3 linked regions of the Homo sapiens genome follow. The protein of the gene in region 1 interacts with the protein of each later gene in a biochemical or structural test. Each region holds a gene or a part of one and is shown on either strand. Other genes may lie near its edges. The genes, in order: POMGNT1, GOLPH3L and GOLPH3.

Region 1 (7,111 bases):
TCTGTCTCTGGGGACAGGTGCCCGGCCCAGGCAAGATAAGCAGGAACCCGGCTGGTGGTTAAACGGTGGGGAAGAGGTAGGGTGGCTGCTCCAAGCCTCAAGTAGGGCGGGGCTAAAGTCAAGCTGTCCTAGGGTAGAGTTGGGGAAAAACCTTGGAGTTTGAGACTCAGGCATCCCCTGGTGGCCAAATGGCCCCAAATGGAAGATAAACTCTGTGGAGGACAGTAAGGAAAACTCACCATCCAACACAAGTATTCTCTCCACCACTTCCCTCCAGCACCCCCCTGACACACAAAATCACAATCACAAGACATCCCCAGAGGGCTTCTCCTTTTTTAATCAATGACCAACTTATCCAGCTTTGGAAATCTGGACAAAGAGAAGGCTGAGAGGAGGCCTGGTCCAGTGTCTAAGGGTCTCTGAGTGAGTCTGTGTCAGCATGTGGGCCCCAGCTGGGCCTGTCCATGGGTTGGGCACAGCAGTTTCCTGAGTAAGAGCCAGCCCCACCCTCAGGGCAGCATTCCAGCCCAAAAAGAAATCCAGGCCCTCCAGGTTCGGCCTGTTTTCAAGGCCCTCAGGACAGTCAATAAATAGGTTAGATTCTGAGCCAGGCCTGGAAAGTGAGGGTATTCAAAGGGCAGGATGAGCTGCTAGGGATCGTAATGATTCCCAGGTACTCTCCTGCCCTTCTCCAACAAGGAAGTAAATAAATAGACTTTTAACTCAGGAACGGGGTGTTGGAGCAGGGGAACCCTCCCCTTGGAGTTAGTAATTAAGTCTCATGTTAAAAACAAGGTAGCCCCAGCCCCTACCAGCATCTACAAAATCCTACAGGATGGAGGGAAGGGCTAGCCAGCCTGGGGGTACACAGTACCCAGCCCCGCAGGGTCCTGGAGGAGGTCTCATGTCTGTTCTGGGGCTCCTGGGGCTCCCTCCTCCTTTGGGGGTGGCTCCAGGAAAATTGGGGTGACTGAGGGTGGCTTCTTCACTCTGGGAAAATAATACAAGAATGTATAGAGAAGAAGCCATTAGCTATATCCCTGGATCTCACTAGGCCTCCTGTTTCCCAGGGCAGAAAAGGGTCACTCACGAGTAGGGGGAAGCCGGGACCCCCACCATCAGGAAGTGGTTCTTCTTCCGAAACAATCTCCACAGGCCCCGATGGTTGCCACGCACATCCAGGTCCCAGATATGGAGGCACTAGTGAGGGTGGGATGGAGACAGAGACATGGGTCAGAGAGCTGTAGGGAGGGGTCACTGACGACCCTTTGGCCCAGCCCCCACCCCTCCTCAGAAACCACCTCAATTTGTAAGAGATAGCATCTTTTAGAATATGAATTTGGACAAGGAGGTTGGAAGAGGTGTTCTAAGAGTATAAAGAGGAGGTTCTGAGGTTGAAGATTCCAGAGCAAAGGCTCCCTGGATCTTGGGGCAGTATGTGTGTGAGGGGGAGGGGTTCTCCAGGGTGGGCATGGTATTGGAGCACCTTGGCAAGCTGGGTCCAGGTGGTGAAGTCATCATCTTTCTCCATTCGAATAAAGGCCACGTAGGTGTGGCCCTCTGTGTCTGGCAGGAAAGAGTCTTCACAAGGGTTCTTGCTGTGGTCCAGAACCTCAGCCTCACTGCAGTAGAGGGTGGGAGAATATAGCCAAGACAGGGCCCACTTCATGGGTGTGTCCCACAGGACCCTGTACTTGGTTGAATGCTCTGCTGTTGCCACCTTGAAGTTCTTTTTTTTTTTTTTTTTTTGAGATGGAGTCTTGCTCTGTCGCCCAGGCTGGAGTCTCCTGCCTCAGCCTCCCAAGTAGCTGGGACTACAGGCGCCTGCCACCACGCCCGGCTAATTTTTTGTATTTTTAGTAGAGACAGGGTTTCACCGTGTTAGCCAGGATGGTCTCGATCTCCTGACCTCATGATCCACCCACCTCGGCCTCCCAAAGTGCTGGGATTACAGGCGTGAGCCACCGCGCCCGGCCTGAAGTTCCTAATGTTTGAGATGAGGGCCCTGATTTTCATTTTGCACAGGACCCTGTAAATTATGGGGCCAAGATCCCCAGTATTTGACTCTTTGCTCCCTGCTACACCCCAATTGTCCTAGGCCATACCTGAGCAGCCTGTGAACTTCCACTTCATAAGCTTCTTTCTTCAGACTGAAGAGGAGGGAGAAATGGGTCAGGGGAGTGGGCAGGCCCTCAGGTCCCATGGGTAGCACTGAGCAGGGCAAGGGGTCACATGGGAATCTGTAGCCGCAGGGCTGGAGTAAACACACAGGCCCAGCATTGGAAGGGACTTTCAGGGACTGGCCTCCAAATCTCCTAGATATCCACCCCTTGCCCTGCTGCCAGCCCCAACCTGTCCACATTCCTGAGCTGGACACCTGGAACCGTGTTGAACTTGTGCTTCTTGAAGTAGGCCTCCTGGAGTGGGTATGAGAGTGAAAATCAGCACCTCACATTGTCTGGCCCACACCCACTTGCTGACCAGCCAGACATCTATAAGACACACAAATGAAGTCCTAGACCTGTAAAGAGCCCTCTAATTTCCCACCGTCTTCTCCATCCTCTTTGCAGCATCCTCAGCAAGCTCTTACTAGCTTTAATTTGGCCTCCACCATTGCTGGAGAGCTCATGCTGTCACGGCAGCTCACACTACTGCACCACAGACCCATGAACTAGCAGTCCCTGCCTCTTGTAGTTCTCCCTGGGCCTGCTGTTCTAGAGCCACAGATGTCAGAAACAGGCCCTGCAGGAGGTGGTGGGCAAAGGGACGGGCTGGGCTGGGAAGGAAAAAACTACTTTGACTCTGGTACTGAGAGTGACCTGAGGGAAGCGCCTGCCCCTCTCTGGGAGAGGAATGGGGCTCGCGTATTAGTCAGCCTCTGAGGGACCTCTGGCTTCTAGGAGGTTCCAAGCTGGACGCTATTCATTCCTTTGGGCTGGGCTGGCTCAAGGCCTCCCTTGCTGTAACTGGGGAATGGTCCTCTGAATGCAGCCAGGTGGGTTGGCGGTACCTAAGGACTTCCCTGTTCTCCTCAGGCTGAAGCATAGGCTCCAGCACTTGCCAAAACAGGAAAGGGCAGAGATTGCAGGGCTGGACCAGTACTTAGAGGCAGAAATACTCTCCCCAGACACCCACAGTCTAGTGCTAAAAATAGTAAAAATAAAAACAATACCAGCTGACCCTTATATATGTTTATAATTCAAAGCACTTTACATATATTGACTCATTTAAACCTCAAAATATCGTAACCCAGTGAGGTAGTAGTATTTTATCCTCTTTTTTTTTGAGATGGAGTCTCGCTCTGTCACCTAGGCTGGAGTGCAGTGGCGTGATCTTGGCTCACAGCAAGCTTCGCCTCCTGGGTTCACGCCATTCTCCTGCCTCAGCCTCCCAAGTAGCTGGGACTACAGGCGCCCATCACCAGGCCCGGCTAATTTTTTGTATTTTTAGTAGAGATGGGGTTTCACCATGTTAGCCAGGATGGTCTCGATCTCCTGACCTTGTGATCCACCCGCATCGGCCTCCCAAAGTGCTGGGATTACAGGCGTGAGCCACCGCGCCCAGCCCTTTATCCTCATTTTTCAGATAAAGAAACTGAGGCAAAAATAGGATAGCTCTTTCCCCAAGGTTACATGGCTAGCAAGTAGCAGAGCTAAGATTGCTTCAGAGTCCATGTTCTTGTTCTTGACTGTCATGCCACACTGTGCCCTGCTCCCTGCCTCCCACTCACGTGAAAGTAGCCATTCATGTTGAGGCCGACGATGCCAAAGTGGTAGGATCGGGAAACGTCAGGGATGATGCACTCTCGGCCCCGGCGTTGTTCAGGCATCCGCATCCACATGTCCCAATCCCAGAGCTGGCAGACATGGACCACGATGAAGGTTAAGATGTTTCGAGTTGGTAGGGGACTCCAGCCCCCTCACCCTACCCTGACAGTTACCTTTTCCGGTGTAGGCCACTTGGGCTCAAGCTCCTCCTTGTACAAGGACCTCCTGAGCACCCAGCCCAGCCCAGGCATGGTCTCCACACGGTACAGTAGTGCTGGGTCCTCAGCCGTGTGTTCATACCCCTGGGGACAGGGTGCCATAGTGGGAGGTATTAGCTGAGGCCTCATAAACTCGCCTGCTAAACCCTGGTCATTCCAGCCTACCTGGTCATTCCAGGCAGAGATGCAGTACAGGCTGTCATCCTCCTCCAGTAGGTGGATGGATTGGCTCAGGAAACTGAGAGAGGCAGGGTCAAAGAGTTCAGGGAGGGACAAGGATAAATCTAGTCACACAGAGATGCTAGAATTGCTGGAGCTGGGTCTCAGGAGCACCTCCTTCCTGGAGTACCTCCTTCCCCCAAATCCCCACTGTCTCCATTCATCCACTGTACCTTCAACAGCAGCCCCAACACCTGCCATCCTACCTTTGCCCAGGCTTCGCCCCCACTTGTGAGCTCATGTCCTCCAGAAAGCTCTCTAGGACACCTCACTGACTCTTTCCCTGCAGACTGAGGGACCTCAACTGAAACCTAGAGACTCCCCTCACCTGAAAAAATCCACAGCAATGTCCAGGTCCTCTTCCAGAACCACAGCAAACTTGGCCTCCTAGAAGGGGAATGGGACATCATGGTCCCAAAGGGGTCTCTCCATCCTGTGATCTCCTTTGCCCCCAACCCTCTTCTTGCAGGCAGCATTACCCCCATTTTCCAGATGTGAAGGATGAGGCCCAGTGAGGGGAAGAGCTTGCCACGTAACAGGCCCAGACCTTATGCCCATGTTTCCCCCCTCCCAGGCCCAAGAGTTGTATCCTTAGTACTCACCGGAAACAGGTTGAAAGTGGCAGTGAGGCTGGCCTTGTAGTGCTGGGAGTGGGGTGGGAATAGGGCACATGAGCTTTAGGGTAGAAGGCAGAGCCAGGTGTCTGCCCCATCCCCACTTGCCTATGCAGTACCTGAGACACGCGGGCATTCTTGATGCTGATGGGAGTATGCTGGATGCCCCTCAGACCAAACAGTGCCACCACATCCATGGGTTCCTGGGGGACATGGCCACTGCTCACCATGTGAGGTCACTTTCCCTCTGCCCACCTCTGCAATCCAAGGCCTTCACATTTCACAGCCCTTGCCTGGGCGGTCTCCCTTGCCCGTCCCTGGCAATCACTGCTGCTCCATGTTGTACTCCACCCGAGGCACCCCCCAAGTCCTGCTCACCTCATAGTAGCCGTCAATGAAAACTGTTATCATCTGAGGAGACACCCCCTGGGCTGAAAGCAGAGAGCGCAGCATCCTGGGGAGCCCAGGGATAGGTTAGGGTCACTTCATCACCCCTCAACTCAGGTTCCCCTGTGTTTACAGCTGGGCCCAGAGTCCCTATGCTTACCCACAGAGGTGAATGCGTCTAGAATCTATTGCCTTTCTGCCCACCTCAAGAGTTCCTCCTGGAGGTAGATGACCTAAGCACCCTCCTGTTCAGTGCTGGGTATAGCCCATTCCCAGGCTTACCTGTACAGGTAATTGGGTCGGTTCCCTGCAATGACAGCCACAGGCACATTGAGGACCTTGTTGTCTGGGAGCTGTGGGAGAAATAGCGTTTAGCTCTTGCCTTATTCCCCCTTCAAACTGGGATCCCCACCTAGGGAAGACTTCTCAGGTGAGGGTAGGTGCAGACTGGAGTAGACAGGGAAGGGATAGAGGATCTTCCCTGTTCTGGGCTCTCCACACACTCAGCCCAACTCTAGCGCTGAGCTTTACTCACATGGCCTGCCCCTTCACCCCAGCCCTGTCTTTCAGAGCGCAGTGTAAATCCTGCCCCTGGTTCTCTCCCAGGCTCAGGTAGGGAAAGCCCAACCTAGATCATTCCTGGGGCCCCCCTGCTGAGCTGGGAAGGAGTCCAAACCTCACTGTCTTAAGGCCCCACTCACTGGGTCAGGGCTGAACTCGATGGGTGTGGGGTCCTTGCAGCTGCATACACTTCCATAGCCCTCAACTTTGCTGCAGAAGCGCCGGCGGCGACGGTTCAGCTCTGTGTCTGCCCAGTGGCACTCTGCCTCTGAGGGAAGGATGCGGTTGTCATGGAGGCATGGGGCCAGCAAGGTTTGAAGAGCCCCAGGCACACAATCAAAGGAATAAAGCTCCACAGAGAGATCTAAATGCCCACCCCCAGCCCAGGCCCTGCCCCATCCATGCTCCACTAACTCCACCTTCTGCTGAGCTCAATGGCACATCTGTCTTCAGCAGGACTGGGTCCCCCCAGGAAGAGAGGGCAGGTGATTTAGAATGTTTCTCCCCGAAGACAGGACCTGGCAGGAGGCAGGAATGAGGGCCATGGGGGCCCAGACACCAGTTTGGGGGCTTTTTCCCATCTCCCTGCCTACTTTCATCCAACCCACTGCCACTGGCTCCTATTTGTTCCCCACCCCACCCCATCTCCTAGGGTTCTGCTCCTCCCAGGCTCTTGATACTACAGAGTGGATGGCCTCTGATGCCGGCACCTCCTTTTCGTCCCACGAAGGCCCATGTGTCCCTCCAGCCCAGGGCAGGGCCAGCCTGGCTGCCCAGGCTCCTCAGCAGAGCCTTGGCTGTGTCCTTGAGGTGGAAGGAGCCCTCATCCTGGGGGACCAGAGAAGGCAGTTAGCCTGACTGGCATGGTTCCAGGAGACCTGGCCTCACAGAGCACGAACTATGTAGCAACCTTTTACTTAAAATAGCTCATTACATTATTGCAATAACCCTCTATGGTTACTCTCTTTCACAGATAAAATAATAACTGAAGGCTTAGAGATTCTAAGGTCATCCAGCTAATAAGTCCTTTCCACAAACCCACACGATCTGCACCTCTCTCTCCCGCCACTCTCTGCCTTCTTTTCCAACCACTCTCCTACTCTCCTCCCTTATTCTGCTCCACCTCGACTAGCATCTTTGCTGTTCCTCAAATATGCCGTGTACCTTCCCACTATAGGGGCTTTGCACTTGCCATTCTTTCCACCTGGAATGCTCTTCCTCCAGATACTCACCTGGCTCACTCCTCAATTCCTCAGCTTTCTGCTCACATATCATCTCCTTGCAGGGGCCTTCTCTTTCTAAAATGTCCCCTCCCCTCTATCATTCATTATCCCCTGCTTTATTT
Region 2 (6,536 bases), about 100 Mb from region 1:
AAGTATAAACAATCCTAATAAACAAATGTATTATTGTCCCTTGTGCTATAGATAAAGAAAGGGAGAACAATAAGCCAATTATAAGCACACTTACATTTTTACATGTTAACTCTGTTATAGTCAGGCATGTCACCTACATTTGGAACTTAAGATTTTCAACTCCTAAATTCAGGTGTCATTTGCAAGTAGATATTAGTAGAACAGATCATATTCATTCTCTTCATGGTAATAATGGTATAATTGGCTAATTTATTTTGATTGAGATGGAGACACTATTTAGGCTTTATAGTATTAGCTGGTGTTCATGTGGTCAGCTTTTGACATGTCCTGCCCCTCAGCCTATGTATGTTACAATTGTTTTTGTATCCCTCATTTTCTACATAGGATAAAACAAGCTGGTATGCTAGTGTAAAGGGGGAGGCATTAATAGCCTTGTGTAGAAAGTCCTTAGTTCCAATTAAAACAATTTAAATTATAAAATTGTGCACAGAGAGACCAGAGAGCTGATAATTGATCTTTATTATACAGAAATGTGAAGGCCATAAGCATTAAATGAGAAGGAGTTTGGCAGTGAACATTATGCAGATTCAAACTGAAGGTATCCTCGTCTTACTGAGATATAAAAATAAACACTAAGAGTTGCAAGAAAGAACTCAATTCAACTTCTATCTCCCAATCAAGCTATAACTTTCCACAGGAAAACCTGGTTTCAATTCATGCCGAATTGTTCAAAGAAAAGAAAAAGCTAAATCAGTTAGAGACAACACATGGACTGGCTTTTGTCCTATTAGAGAGCCAGACTGAAGCTGTATTCAGCCTCACATTTAGAGACTGTTTCCTATTACAATTTATATCTCTATTTGCCTAAGAGATACCTAAAGTGAAAAACAAAAAAATGTTAACTGAGCTGGGGCATTTTTGTGGGGCTAAGTAGATTTGGCAGAGGAGAGAAATGAATAAATAATTCATTTAATTATTTCTAATCAAGAGGATTTAATGTCAGGTCTGGGTCATCTGTATTAACCCTTTGACAGTTTGTTGTTCTATAATGGTCAAGAAGCACTATCCCATTAAAGTATAATAAATGCTGAACATCAGCACAGCTCAGTGCACATCCTCTTTATATCCTCAAATACTGGACTTTATATCAGCATGCTTTCAATACCAAATTAGCCCTTTAAATAGGATCTTTCTTAATAAAGCTTCTCATTGCCCTCACTACTGAAGTAAAAAACGTGTTAGAGATTTGGCCAGAAAGATGGTTTTACTGAAATAAGACTGATGACTAGGAGCACATCTATGGATTAAATATAGACAAAACTACTCCCAGAAACCTTAAATATAGACAGACTTTATTAATTTATGTAGGAAGCCAAAAATAGGAAATAAAAAGATCTGGAGTTCAGATATACTGATATATTCAGCAACTGAAACTTACAATTCCTTCAATTCAGTCAGAGCAGAGACATTTAAAGTAGTCTGGAGGGGTGGGTGCAGTGGCTCAAGCCAGTAATCTCAGCACTTTGGGAGGCTGAGGTGGAAGAATTGCTTGAGCCCAGGAATTCAAGACCAGCCTGGGCAACAAAGCGAGACTCTTGTCTAAAACAAACAAAAAAAAGCTGAGTATGGTGGCACGTGCCTGTAGTCCCACTTAGTTGGGAGACTGAGGCAGGAGGATCCTTGAGCCCTGGAGGTCAAGGCTGCAGTCAGCTGTGATTGCACTACTGTACTCCTGCCTGGGCAAGAGCAAGACCCTGTCTCAAAAGAAAAAAAAAAAAAAAGTGGCCTGGGGGAAACAGGACAGTCATATACCCCAAGAATGGAAATTTTCATGCCACCCCCCTTCCTTCCTTACAAATTCTAATGCTGATTGCATGAACGAGGTGTTGAGAGAGACTTTTCTTCATTTAGACATTTGCCCTAGTGAATGAGGGAGCAAGAGAATGCTAAGAGGGATGAGAGAATATATTTCTGGCTCTAGGACTTTGACATCCAGGTAATTGAATCTGGGACATTCTCATTAGGTTAGAAAAGGAAAGATGAGAAAATCACTAGCAGGATATGCAATTCCAGAGACCATCTGCTCCAAAAATTAGTTTTGTTTCTCATTGCTCCTTATTCAGCGACAGTTATTTCAATAAGCTACATTATTTAGCAGAGTCTGAGAGACAAAGGCTGTGAAAACATGTATTTATGATAGAAAACAAACTCAGAAAAATATAATAGATAGTTCACTTTTTATCTCATTCACATTCTATAGCTGGAGAACTCAAAATCCCATTTAGATATTTCTGCTTATCCAAAAGCACACTGGGTGAAACTAAACCACCAAATGGGAGAAAATGTTCATTGGGTGTGTGTGGCTTCACCCAGTTTATTTACCTATGGAGTGGAAGTGTAGGGAGAAATAAGGTCTGCTTATAATGGTCAAGGTCTATGGAGAAGCCCTGAAGTTGCTCTCCCCAAATCACAAGTCTGATTCAAGAAAAGGAAACAAAAATGATGAAAACATCTCATCACACAAAACTCAGTGATGGGGTCTCTGACAGTCACCAGCCAGCAGGGGAAAAGGAGAAATCCACCTGCCGGCTTTAAGATTTATTGAAGGCTGCCAGCACAGCCCAGATCATTTCTGTGGCACTAGGCTTTGTCCCTTCCACTTCAGGGTCCAGTTCTACTAAGTCCTTGGCTCGATTCATTGCCACATCATACTTGTCATCTGTCAGAGAGGAGAAGACATTCTCTAGCACATCAGAGGAGTGGGCTAGCACCAGGAGTGCTAGTGTTCGCTTGTCCATACGCTGAGGGTCATTTACCCACCGCTCTAGTACACTATCTTGAAGTTTTTTCACTAGTCGCTGTTTCTCTGTTGTATTGGTCACTGGATGAGTAGTCATGTCAAATAGCAGGAAATTCTGCTTCTCAGTGGTTAGAATACCTTTCTCTACTAGGTTCTTTGCGATGCGCTCTCGTACATTTCTCAGCTGGTACTGTAATTTGAAGGGGTTCCAGGTCTCACCTATGAGAAAAAAGAAATAGGACATAATGAACTGAAAGAGAAAAGCAAAATGAAACATGTAGTTGTTTGGAAACTTGAATGGCTAAAATGTTTAAAAGCATAATCTTCATTCCTCAATTCATTTAATCCTTAGTCCTTTATAATCTGGCTTTGACTCCAACCACATTTCACATTAAACCAGCTTCAAAAAATGTCACCAAGGACTTCCATATTGCTAGAGCTTATAGACTTTATTTCTGTTCTTATGTGACCTCTGTGACACTGTAATTATTTATGTATTTTTCAAATTCTATTTAGGACACCAGTCTCTCCCAGATGATTTCTACTCTATATTGTGGAAGTTCTATTTGCTGGTGAAGCTAAGAGGACTGAGGTTCCCTACCCTATTTGTAGAGCAGAAGCTCTATCCCAGGCCTGGTAGGCTGACAATATTTAGACTTCAATTGCTCCCATTCCAGCTTGTTCGTAGATTAGAGATTCTGCAACAGAAAAGGCAAGTCAAGAAGACCAGGGGCTAACACCTCTTTCCCCCAGCACCTACTCATACAGCAGGTGGGTATCACTGTAGGAGAAGTGGGCCCTTGTGCAGAAGTTCTGCCCAGGAGGGAAGGAAGGCCTGAAGAATGAAGAGCTCCAAAGCTCTGCCTGAGAGGACTGACTTTATTTGGAACACAGTGTGGAGAATTCTATGCCTAAGGGTGTTGAAAACCATAGAGATCTTGGTGGAGAGCAATTACAAGGTGCTGCTAGCTCTATGGCACTGGTATGACAAACCCAAATGGCAAAGCCTCCAGAAGTTTAACAGGCAGAACCAGAGAAACAGAAAGCCAAGAAAAGTCCTTCTGGAATCATGACCAACACTGGGGGTTGGGAAGACTGTGTGCTTGCACCAGGCTGCACCCACTCAGGAGCAATCAGAGCAGGACGTGGGGCTTGACTTGAGAGTATTCCCCAGACCACACATAGATCTATCAAAAAAGGGTGGATGCTTCACTGGCACCAAGGGCTAAAGCACAACCACTGAACCAACACTGGCTGAACAATAAGCTACCCTAACTCAGAGGCAACTCCTAGAAAGCTAAGCTTAAAAATAATAATAATAGCCGGGTGTGGTGGTACACGCCTGTAGTCCCAGCTACTTGGAGGCTTAGGCAGGAAAACCCAGGAGGCGGAGGTTTCAGTCAGCTGAGATTGTACCACTGCACTCCAGCCTGAGTGACAGAGTGAGACTTCATCTCAAGAAATGAAAAATAAAAAATAAAAATAAAATTAAAAAAATCACATACATCCCTGGTGTATGTCCAAGGATGTACTCTCTCCGAGAAGAAATCAGAGAGGGAACTTCCAAGCTGCTAGTTCCTCACTGAATGTGGGGCAAAATGTAAACTCCCTGATTTGTGATGGCTATGTCAAAATCACACACACATATCCAACAGTAAAGGATAAAAAAATTTAATTGGCTAAAAGGTCTTAAGCACAACCTTTGACTAATAAGTGGCTTCTACTGACCCACTGGCAACACACAGGGAGTTAGGCCAAAAGATAAAAACAAGAAAATATGAGCAGTGACATCAGAGGCTGCACACTACAAGAGAAACAGACTTCAGAGAGCTGCTGCAGGCAAGTCACTAAGGAAACAAATTACCAAGCAAACAACACAATCAACCTCTAGTGGGAAGGAGAAACCAGTATAGCAGGTGTCCCCAACCCCTGGACCATGGACTGGTACTGGTCTGCAGCCTGTTAGGAACCCGGCTGCACAGCAGGAGGTGAGCCATGGGTGAGTAAAGTTGAGCTCTGCCTCCCATCAGATCAGCAGTGGCATTAGGTTCCCACAGGAGTGTGAACCCTATTGTGAACTGCACATGGGAGGGATCTAGGTTGCATGTTCCTTGTGAGACTCTAATAAATGCAATGCACTTGAATCATACCGAAACCATCCCCCCGTCTCCCACCCCAGTGGAAAAACTGTCTTCCACGAAACCTGTCCTGGTGCCAGAAAAGTTGGGGACAGCTGCAGTGTAGTATCCAGAGTTGCACAATTATCTAAAATGTCCAGTTTTTGACAAAAAAGTATGAAGTATACAAAGAATAAATTGTGACCCATTGACCCATTCAGAAGAAAAAAAGCAGGCAATGGAAACTGCCTTTGAGAACGCTAAAATGTTGGACTTTACAAAGACTATAAAGCAGCTTTTATAAATATGTTCAAAGACCTAAGGGAAACCATGACTTATCATATAGAGAATATAAATAAAGACAGAAATTATAAAAAAGATCCATTTAGACCAGGTGCGGTGGCTCACGCCTGTAATCCCAGCATTTTGAGAGGCTGAGGTGGGTGGATCATTTGAGGCCAGGAGTTCAAGACAAGCCTGGCCAACATGGCGAAACGCCATCTCTACTAAAAATACAAAAATTAGCCAGGTATGGTGGGCACCTGTAATCCCAGCTGCTCAGGAGGCTGAGGCAGAGAATCGCTTGAACCTGGGAGGTGGAGGCTGCAATGAGCTGAGATAGTGCCACTGCACTCCAGCCTGGGCAACAAAGCAAGACTCCATCTCAAAAAAACAAAAACAAAAAAACCATTTAGAAATCCTAGAGTTTAAAAGTACAACAGACTGGGCATGGTGGCTCACGTCTGTAATCCCAGCACTTTGGGAGGCTGAGGCAGGCGGATTACTTGAAGCCAGGAGTTTGAGACCAGCCTGGCCAATATGGTGAAACCCTGTCTCTACTAAAAATACAAAATTAGCCGGGTATGGTGGTGTGTGCCTGTAGTTCCAGCTACTCAGGAGGCTGAGGCAGGAGAATCACTTGAACCCAGGAGGCGGAGGTTGCAATGAGCCAAGATCACACCATTACACTCCAGCCTCAGCGACAGAGCGAAACTCAAAAAAAAAAAAAAAAAAAAAAGTACAACAAACAAAATGAAAAAATCACTCAAGGGATCCAACAAGAGATCTGAGCTGGCAAAATAAAGAATTAGCAAACTTAGAGATCAAAGAAATTATGTAATATGAAGAACAAGGAGAAAAGAGAATGAAGAAAAATGAACAGACTCAGAGAAATATAAAGTATCATCAACTTGATGAACATACATAAAATGGAAGCACCAGAAGGAAAGGAGAGAAAGAGGCAGAAAAAATACTCAAGAAAGTAATGGCTAAAATCTTGCCAAACGTGATGAAAAACACTCAACCACACATTGGAGAAGTTCAACAAACTCCAAGTTGGATGAACACAAAGAGACCCATATCCAACATCATAGTAAAAATGTTGAAAACCAAAAATAAGTGGAAAATCATGAAAGCAGAAGAGAAAAATGACTTATCACATCACAGTGGAACTTTGTAAGCTTAATAACTGACTTCCCATTAGAAAAAATGCAGGCCAGAAGAATGAGTAGACTTATTCAAAGTGAGGGTAGAAACTATTAGCCAAGAATCTTATAACTGGCAAACTATCTTTCAGAAATAAAAGCAAAGCAGGTGTGGTGGCATGCACTTGTAGTCCC
Region 3 (7,111 bases), on another chromosome or scaffold:
TCAAGTACCCAGGGACACAAACACTGCGGAAGGCCGCAGGGTCCTCTGCCTAGGAAAACCAGAGACCTTTGTTCACTTGTTTATCTGCTGACCTTCCCTCCACTATTGTCCTGTGACCCTGCCAAATCCCCCTCTGCGAGAAACACCCAAGAATGATCAATAAAAAATAATAATAATAAAATAAAATTAAAAATAAATAAATAAATAAAAGCTGCAAATGAAGTCTAGAATCTTTCTGAATTTGTAAGATCCAGTGGCCGGTTACCTTAACAATCAATTACATTACTCATTGTAGGTGAAAGAACCAGGAAACCAAGAATGCAAAAAAGATATGGAAATACAATTGAAGAAAGACAACTTTAATATCAACTTCCACTTTAATTTTTGAAGGCTACTAGTAAAAACATACATTTTAAGCAGTACAACCTCTTTAAAAAGAATGTTACTCAGCACTCCTCTTACCTTTCTTGTTAATAGACTTTTACGTCTCATTCCACAAGCCTCTAGTTGTAACCTTCCTCTCAATGCTAATTCAATTAACATACAGCCACGTAATCCAGATGATATACAGTCATTCCAAAATGATGTGTAACCCTATTAAAAAAAGAAGAAGAAATAAAACAAAATAGCTAATTTACCTTGAATTCAGAGTAAAAAACAGAAATATTATCAGCCAAAGTCATATTTGGTGCCTTTTACCTTTCCTGTCTTTCTATAATAATATACTGAAAAAATACAATTAACATAAATTACTAATCGAGAATTTTCGGGGGCTTATCTTTCCACCACTTATTCTTACATACAAACAACAAATAACTTTAGAGGTCATAAGTTTAGAAACATAACTCACATTTCACCAAGCTGTGTGTTTATTAGGTTCTTTCAGAACCCTGCAAACTCCAAGGAATACTCAGTTAACCCCAGATTATAGTGATTTATTTATGTGGACAAGTTAAGAAGCTCAGGCAAAGACAACCTAGCCAAGTTAGCTTCACAGAGAATTAGAATACCATTCATTTATTGCTGTTTAGGATAAAACCACAAGGTTAATCCGAGCACTTTGGGAGGCTGAGCCAAGACGATGGCTTGAGCCCAGGAGTTTGAGACCAGACTGGACAACATAGTGAGATCCTGTTTCTACCAAAAAAAATTAATTAGCTAGGTGTGGTGCTGCACACCTGTAGTCGCAGCTACCCAGGAAGCTAAGGCAGGAGGACCACTGTGTCCAAGAGTTCAAGGCTACAGTGAGCAATAATTACACCAACACACTGCAGCCTGGGCAAAACAGTGCGACATTGTCTCTTAAATACACACACTGTTAATTTTGTAAGAAGATATTAGAAAAACACACATGCGCCCACAAACAAATGGATGGCTATAGGCCTAAAATTCTCAATAATAAACAGTATAACAATCAGATTGGCCCCAAGAGAGAATGTAAGGGCAGCATCCACAGTGGAAGAACGGCCAGACATAAGGAGGTTGATAGACATCTAGAGATCTGGGATACTGGTCAAGCAGGCATCACCAGATGAGGTCAGGACACTTTAACAGCAAACAACTGGGGTTGTTCAAATTATAAAGCCACAAATCTTGCCAGCAGGATTGCCAGCTATCAATTTAAGATACCCAGTTCTCATGAGACAGCAGAAGCTATAAATAACTCTCATTAAGGCTCAGAACAGGGTAACACAATTTTGGTAGGAGAACAGGCCAACTGAATCTCTAAAGAATGGAGGGCCCAGGATTAGGAAGGCCTGGCCCTCACCTCTGGCACTTTTCCAAGGTCAATCCTGGCACTTTGTCAGGCCAGAGTAGTGAGCTTGTGTTTCAGAAGATGACTGACCATTGAGGTCCATCAAACTTCATTTTTGATACAAGGAGTTAAATTCGCCTCACCAAGCTACCACTTCTGAGAATGTGACCTTTGGGAAAATAACAATTTAAAGGAGGCACAAGCGGATAAACAAAAACATCAGTGTTAAGAGATCAATTTAAATGTGAGGTGTAAGTAGCAGACACTGACTGGATTTTAGGGAGTCACTTTAAACTTAGGGTCGGGGCCTGATCAAATGAAGATTACCAGAGATTTAGCAAAGTGGCTAATAATACCAGTACTTTATAGAGGTTAGGTAAAATGCGTGGCTTCTGTGTCCATGAAATTAAAGCCCTAGGAAGCCTGAGAATGAATTCCACATGAAATTAAAGTTACAGATATCTGGCTTTGACTGGCCTGGACATATAGACAGAGTTCCTAAATGAGCCTCTACAAACTGTAAACAACAGAGAACACCTCATAAAGCAATAATGGACGTGAACAGCCCTACAGCCTGCAAACTCCAGCTGAACAGTACCTGGAGGCTTACATTTGACAGCAGAGAACTAAAATATGTCTCAATCTCAATTGCTCCTAGAGTAATGGCATACCCAGAGATATTAGCAAAATGGGGTCTTTAGTAACAGACTTCAGAGATCTAAATTTAGTGAATGGCTTTAGGCATCATCGCTGAAAGACACATGCTTAAACAGAATTGGATTCACATGGGAAAGTAGATGAATGGGAACGGACAGTTCTGTACCACAGCTTCTGGGACTCGTCAGCAATATTCCAAAGATAAATGAAGCCAACAAAGACACACCAAACAACAGAAAAGTACAGTATGTTGATACCCTCCTGCTAAAATCCATGTCATAAAAGCAGGATCAAAAATTAACCATAGGGTGGCCAGGCGCAGTGACATACACCTGTAATCCCAGCACTTCGGGAGGCAGAGGCAAGCAGATTGCTTGAGCCCAGGAATTCCAGACCCCTGGGCAACATGGTGAAACCCCATCTCTACAAAAAATACAAAAATTAGCCGGGCATGGTGGCACCCGTCTGTGGTCCCAGCTACTTGGAAGGCTGAGGTGGGAGAATCACCTGAGCTCAGGAACTTGAGGCTGCAGTGAGCCATGATCATGCCACTGCACTCCAGCCTGGATGACAGGAGTAAGACCCTATCTCAAAAAAAAAAAAAAGATAAAATATGTGGGGAAGGTTAGTAACTGGCAGCATCAAGCAGCTTATGACTGTAGTCATAATTAGTTCCTATGTTCTAAAATATAAGGATGGGAGAGGACAGAGACACCCCAAGTAGGCTGGGCCATACACTACCAGACCTCCATCTGCCTGATTCCCTTTATTCTTTCAAGTGGCTCAATTTGAATGGTAGAAAAGGGTATTGTTTATTAAGTCCCCTAAAACTGCCAACACTGAGAAGAGTTCTCACCATTCCAGTTAAGAGCTACTGTTCTGCTCTCAACTGCCTACTTACCCAGAAGCTTTTTGTTAAGAAGGAACTCAAAAGGTTGGTAACCCAAAATGAAATGTAATAAAAATATTTTGTATAAAGATCATAACAGGGATATAACCGGAAGTATAAGATTTTCCTTATATGTTATTAAAAACATTTACAACATGGGAAAATGCTCATAATATATATTCTACATGAGAAACAGATAAAAAATTATATTATCTAAAGCAGAGTGTCCAATCTTTTGGCTTCCCTGGGCCATACTGGAAGAATTATTATCTTGGCCCACACATAAAATATACTAACACTAATGACAGCTGATGAGCTAAAGAAAACAAAAAAAAAAACCTCATGTTTTAACAAAGTTTACAAATTTGTGCTGGACCAGATTCAAAGCCGTAGGCCACCTGCGGCCCACAGGCCACGGGTTGGACAAGCTTGATCTAAAGTGTAATCTTATTTTGAAGTTACATAAATATTAATACGTATGTATATCATAGGTTTGTATTTACAAAAAAACTTATAAATGTTCACATCCTTTGACACAATTCTTATGGGCCTTTAGTTAGAAAATACTGTGCACAAAAATATATGTACAAATATATTGATCACATCATTATCATAGTAAAACACAAAAACAATCTAAAAGCAAAAAAAAGGGAATAAACTCAGCACTTCCCAAACTTTCCTGACCTTGAAGCATTTTAATTTACAGTATACTTTTAACAGCCTACAGAATATTACAATTCTATGAAAATCAGTTTTAAAAATCCTGGTGCAGGAGGCGGAGGCTGCAGTGAGCCGAGATTGCACCACTGCACTCTAGCCTGGTGACAGAGCAAGACTTCATCTCAAACAAAAAAAAAAAGAAAAGAAATCCTGGTGCAGAGGTTATTACAAAACATGAAAAATTATTATGAAATCGTGTGTGTGTGTGTAGAGAGACAGAAAATAGTCCCATTTTTTAGGGAGATTAGAAGAAAAGTTTTAGCAGCAGTAATGTCTGGTGATTATGGTGATCTTTATTTTCTTTAGGCTTTTCTGTATATAGTAAAGGAAAACTCGTGGCAAGGAGATAAGTAAGGTTTTCCTTACTGATCAACTATAGTTATAGTTGTTCAAGCTTAAAAGGCAATAGTTATGATAGTGGCAGTAATTTGACAGAGGCAAAACACTAGAAGAACTAAAAACTCTCCATGAAAATAACTATGAACCACAAAGTAAAACATATTTGTGAAGTAGTAAAGAACTGTGCTCAAGAGCCCAGACCGCACAAACACCTGGCGATTCAAATCAACTCCAGCTCTACCACATACTATATAGTTAAATTTCTGAGACTAGTTTTCTTCATATAAAACAAGTTGTGAAGATTAAATAATATATATAAAGCACAACCCCTGGCAATTAGTAATTACTTAATTATGTACAATTAGAATGGAATGGGGATGGAGGACTGCAAACTCAGTTACTTAGAAAGTACAAAGAACATGACTGAATAAAGAGACCCAGGTGTGGATTGCAGCAAGCTGGACAATGTCCTCTTCCATCTATCTGGGGAAGACAGCTTAGCCCTTATCAACTGTTGCCATGTAAAATGTGGGCCTGCTCTTGCCACATCTTTTTCAAGAGGGCAGAAACGTCCGTTTCTATATATTACTTCCATCTTTGAAAGGATTACAACTCAAGTTTTACTAAACAAAACATATCTGGCAAACCAGTTTGCAACCGCTAAACATTTTACAAAACATACTACGTTATATGAATGTTCAGTTACTAGTAGTCTGTATAGGCATAAAGTACTCAAAATAGTTTCATTTTGTTTTTATGTACAAAATATTTCAAAATGAAATCACTAAAAACACTATATTTTCTATATAAGGTTGAATTCTGGTGTGACCAATGTTTTGGAAATGGCTTTCTAATAGAAATATAGGCCAGGTCCACATGGTGGCTCACGCCTGTAATCCCAGCACTTTGGGAGGCCAAGGTGGGCAGATCACGATGTCAGGAGATCGAGACCATCCTGGCTAACACGGTGAAACCCCATCTCTACTAAAAATATAAAAAATTAGCTGGGCGTGGTGGTGGGCACCTGTAGTCCCAGCTACTCGGGAGGCTGAGGCAGGAGAATAACGTGACCCCAGGAGGCGGAGCTTGCAGTGAGGCGAGATCGCGCCAATGCACTCCAGCCTGGGCAAGAGAGCAAGACTCTGTCTCAAAAAAAATAAAAAATACAAAATACAAAATTACCCAGGCGTGGTGGCGCATGCCTGTAATCCCAGCTACTCAGGAGGTTGAGGCAGGAGAACTGCTTGAACCTGGGAGGCAGAGGTTGCAGTAAGCTGAGATCGCACCACTGCACCCCAGCCTGGGCAACAAGAGCGAAACTCCATCTCAAAAAAAAAGAAAAAAAGAAAGGTGATTGTACTTGCCAAATCTAAATGGACCAGGATGAACAAATTAAGTCTCCCTCCTGAGTATCTGAACTTGCCATACTGAATCAGTTATATGGGCATGGCACTGGAGCTGTACTGGCTGTGTGGATTCAGAAGCTACTGGCCATTGGGTACAAATGCAGAGAATGAAGGTAACAGAAAGGAAAACAGAAGACAAATGCAGAGTAGAAATGAGAGAGGATGCAATGTGAGGCAAACCAAGACATACAGAGACAGAGAGGCAGACAGGCACATACACGGAATAGCATGTTTGTTGTTTTAACCTGCTATGTTTTGTTATGCAGTAAGATAATTAATACAGTGGGTGCCCAGGGCTGGCAAAATGGGAAAAGGGAGAGGTAATGGCTAAAGGGGATGAGCTTTCTTTTGGAAGTGATAAAAATATTCTAAAATTGATTATGGTGGTGGTTGTACAAATCTGAAAACCTTGAATTGTACACTTCAAATGACAATTATATGGCATATGAATCATATCTCAGAGCTGTTACAAAAAAACATTCTATAAAGTCACTTCTGAAATCTTACATGAAATTTTGATTATGTCAAAAATTAAGAATCAAAAAGTTCTTGACAAAAATAACTAATCAAGAGAATGAAGGTGACTTCAGGTAAAAGCAGATTAAAAAGACTAGACAAGAAAAGGTATCTACAGATATAAGAACTGTTAAAGAAGTAGTAAGGCTGGGCACTGTGGCTCACGCCTGTAATCTCAGCACTTTAAGAGGCCGAGGCGGGCAGATCACCTGAGGTCACGAGTTCAAGACCAGCCTGGCCAAGGCGGCAAAACCCCATCTCTACTAAAAATACAAAAATTAGCCAGGTGTGGTGGCTCATGCCTGTAATAGCAGCTACTCGGGAGGCTGAGGCAGGAGAATCGCTAGATCCTGGGAGGCAGAGGCTGCAGTGAGCCACTGCACTTCAGCCTGGGCAAAAGAGTGAAACTGTCTCAAGAAAAAAAAAAAAAGTAGTAAAACTGCATTTGCTGGTGATATTGTTGGATATTTAGAAAAACTCATAAGAGTAAATGGAAAAATTACTATAGATAGGAGTTTAGTAAAGTAGCCAGATTATATAAAATTAAACACCAGTTGTCATATACAAACAAAATACACATGTTAAAATACTAAAAAGTTAAAATATAATTGAAAAGACCTTTACAACAGCAACAAAAAGAACAAAAAATACCATGGCAAAACCTATATGAAAAGTTTAAAGTCTCTTGAAAGACTTAAAAATAGACTTGAATAATAGAAAGATATTTCATTCTTATATACAAAGTCTCAGCATTATTATTAGTTCTTCCTAAGTTAATAAATGTAATATCCCAATAAAAATAGCAACAGATTTTCCCTGGAGCTATAC

The links.
Region 2: the proteins of POMGNT1 (region 1) and GOLPH3L form a complex in vitro, tested with the Homo sapiens proteins (one study listed by BioGRID).
Region 3: the proteins of POMGNT1 (region 1) and GOLPH3 form a complex in vitro, tested with the Homo sapiens proteins (one study listed by BioGRID).

What each region holds. Positions count from the first base shown.
Region 1 is NC_000001.11:46,188,368-46,195,478, forward strand, and holds the end of POMGNT1 (protein O-linked-mannose beta-1,2-N-acetylglucosaminyltransferase 1), read right to left. Parts: intron 6,595-7,111; coding exon 6,477-6,594; intron 6,285-6,476; coding exon 6,186-6,284; intron 6,035-6,185; coding exon 5,907-6,034; intron 5,559-5,906; coding exon 5,488-5,558; intron 5,273-5,487; coding exon 5,197-5,272; intron 5,022-5,196; coding exon 4,938-5,021; intron 4,849-4,937; coding exon 4,807-4,848; intron 4,592-4,806; coding exon 4,533-4,591; intron 4,224-4,532; coding exon 4,151-4,223; intron 4,070-4,150; coding exon 3,941-4,069; intron 3,857-3,940; coding exon 3,731-3,856; intron 2,418-3,730; coding exon 2,353-2,417; intron 2,151-2,352; coding exon 2,106-2,150; intron 1,623-2,105; coding exon 1,487-1,622; intron 1,201-1,486; coding exon 1,091-1,200; intron 991-1,090; coding exon 903-990; coding exon of another isoform or gene 875-902; 3' UTR 614-874; coding exon of another isoform or gene 352-613; 3' UTR 316-351; downstream 1-315. UniProt on the Homo sapiens protein: Participates in O-mannosyl glycosylation by catalyzing the addition of N-acetylglucosamine to O-linked mannose on glycoproteins.
Region 2 is NC_000001.11:150,645,730-150,652,265, forward strand, and holds the end of GOLPH3L (Golgi phosphoprotein 3-like), read right to left. Parts: intron 3,499-6,536; coding exon of another isoform or gene 3,452-3,498; exon of another isoform or gene 3,403-3,451; intron 3,020-3,402; coding exon 2,592-3,019; 3' UTR 501-2,591; downstream 1-500. UniProt on the Homo sapiens protein: Phosphatidylinositol-4-phosphate-binding protein that may antagonize the action of GOLPH3 which is required for the process of vesicle budding at the Golgi and anterograde transport to the plasma membrane.
Region 3 is NC_000005.10:32,143,287-32,150,397, forward strand, and holds part of GOLPH3 (Golgi phosphoprotein 3), read right to left. Parts: intron 595-7,111; coding exon 463-594; intron 1-462. UniProt on the Homo sapiens protein: Phosphatidylinositol-4-phosphate-binding protein that links Golgi membranes to the cytoskeleton and may participate in the tensile force required for vesicle budding from the Golgi.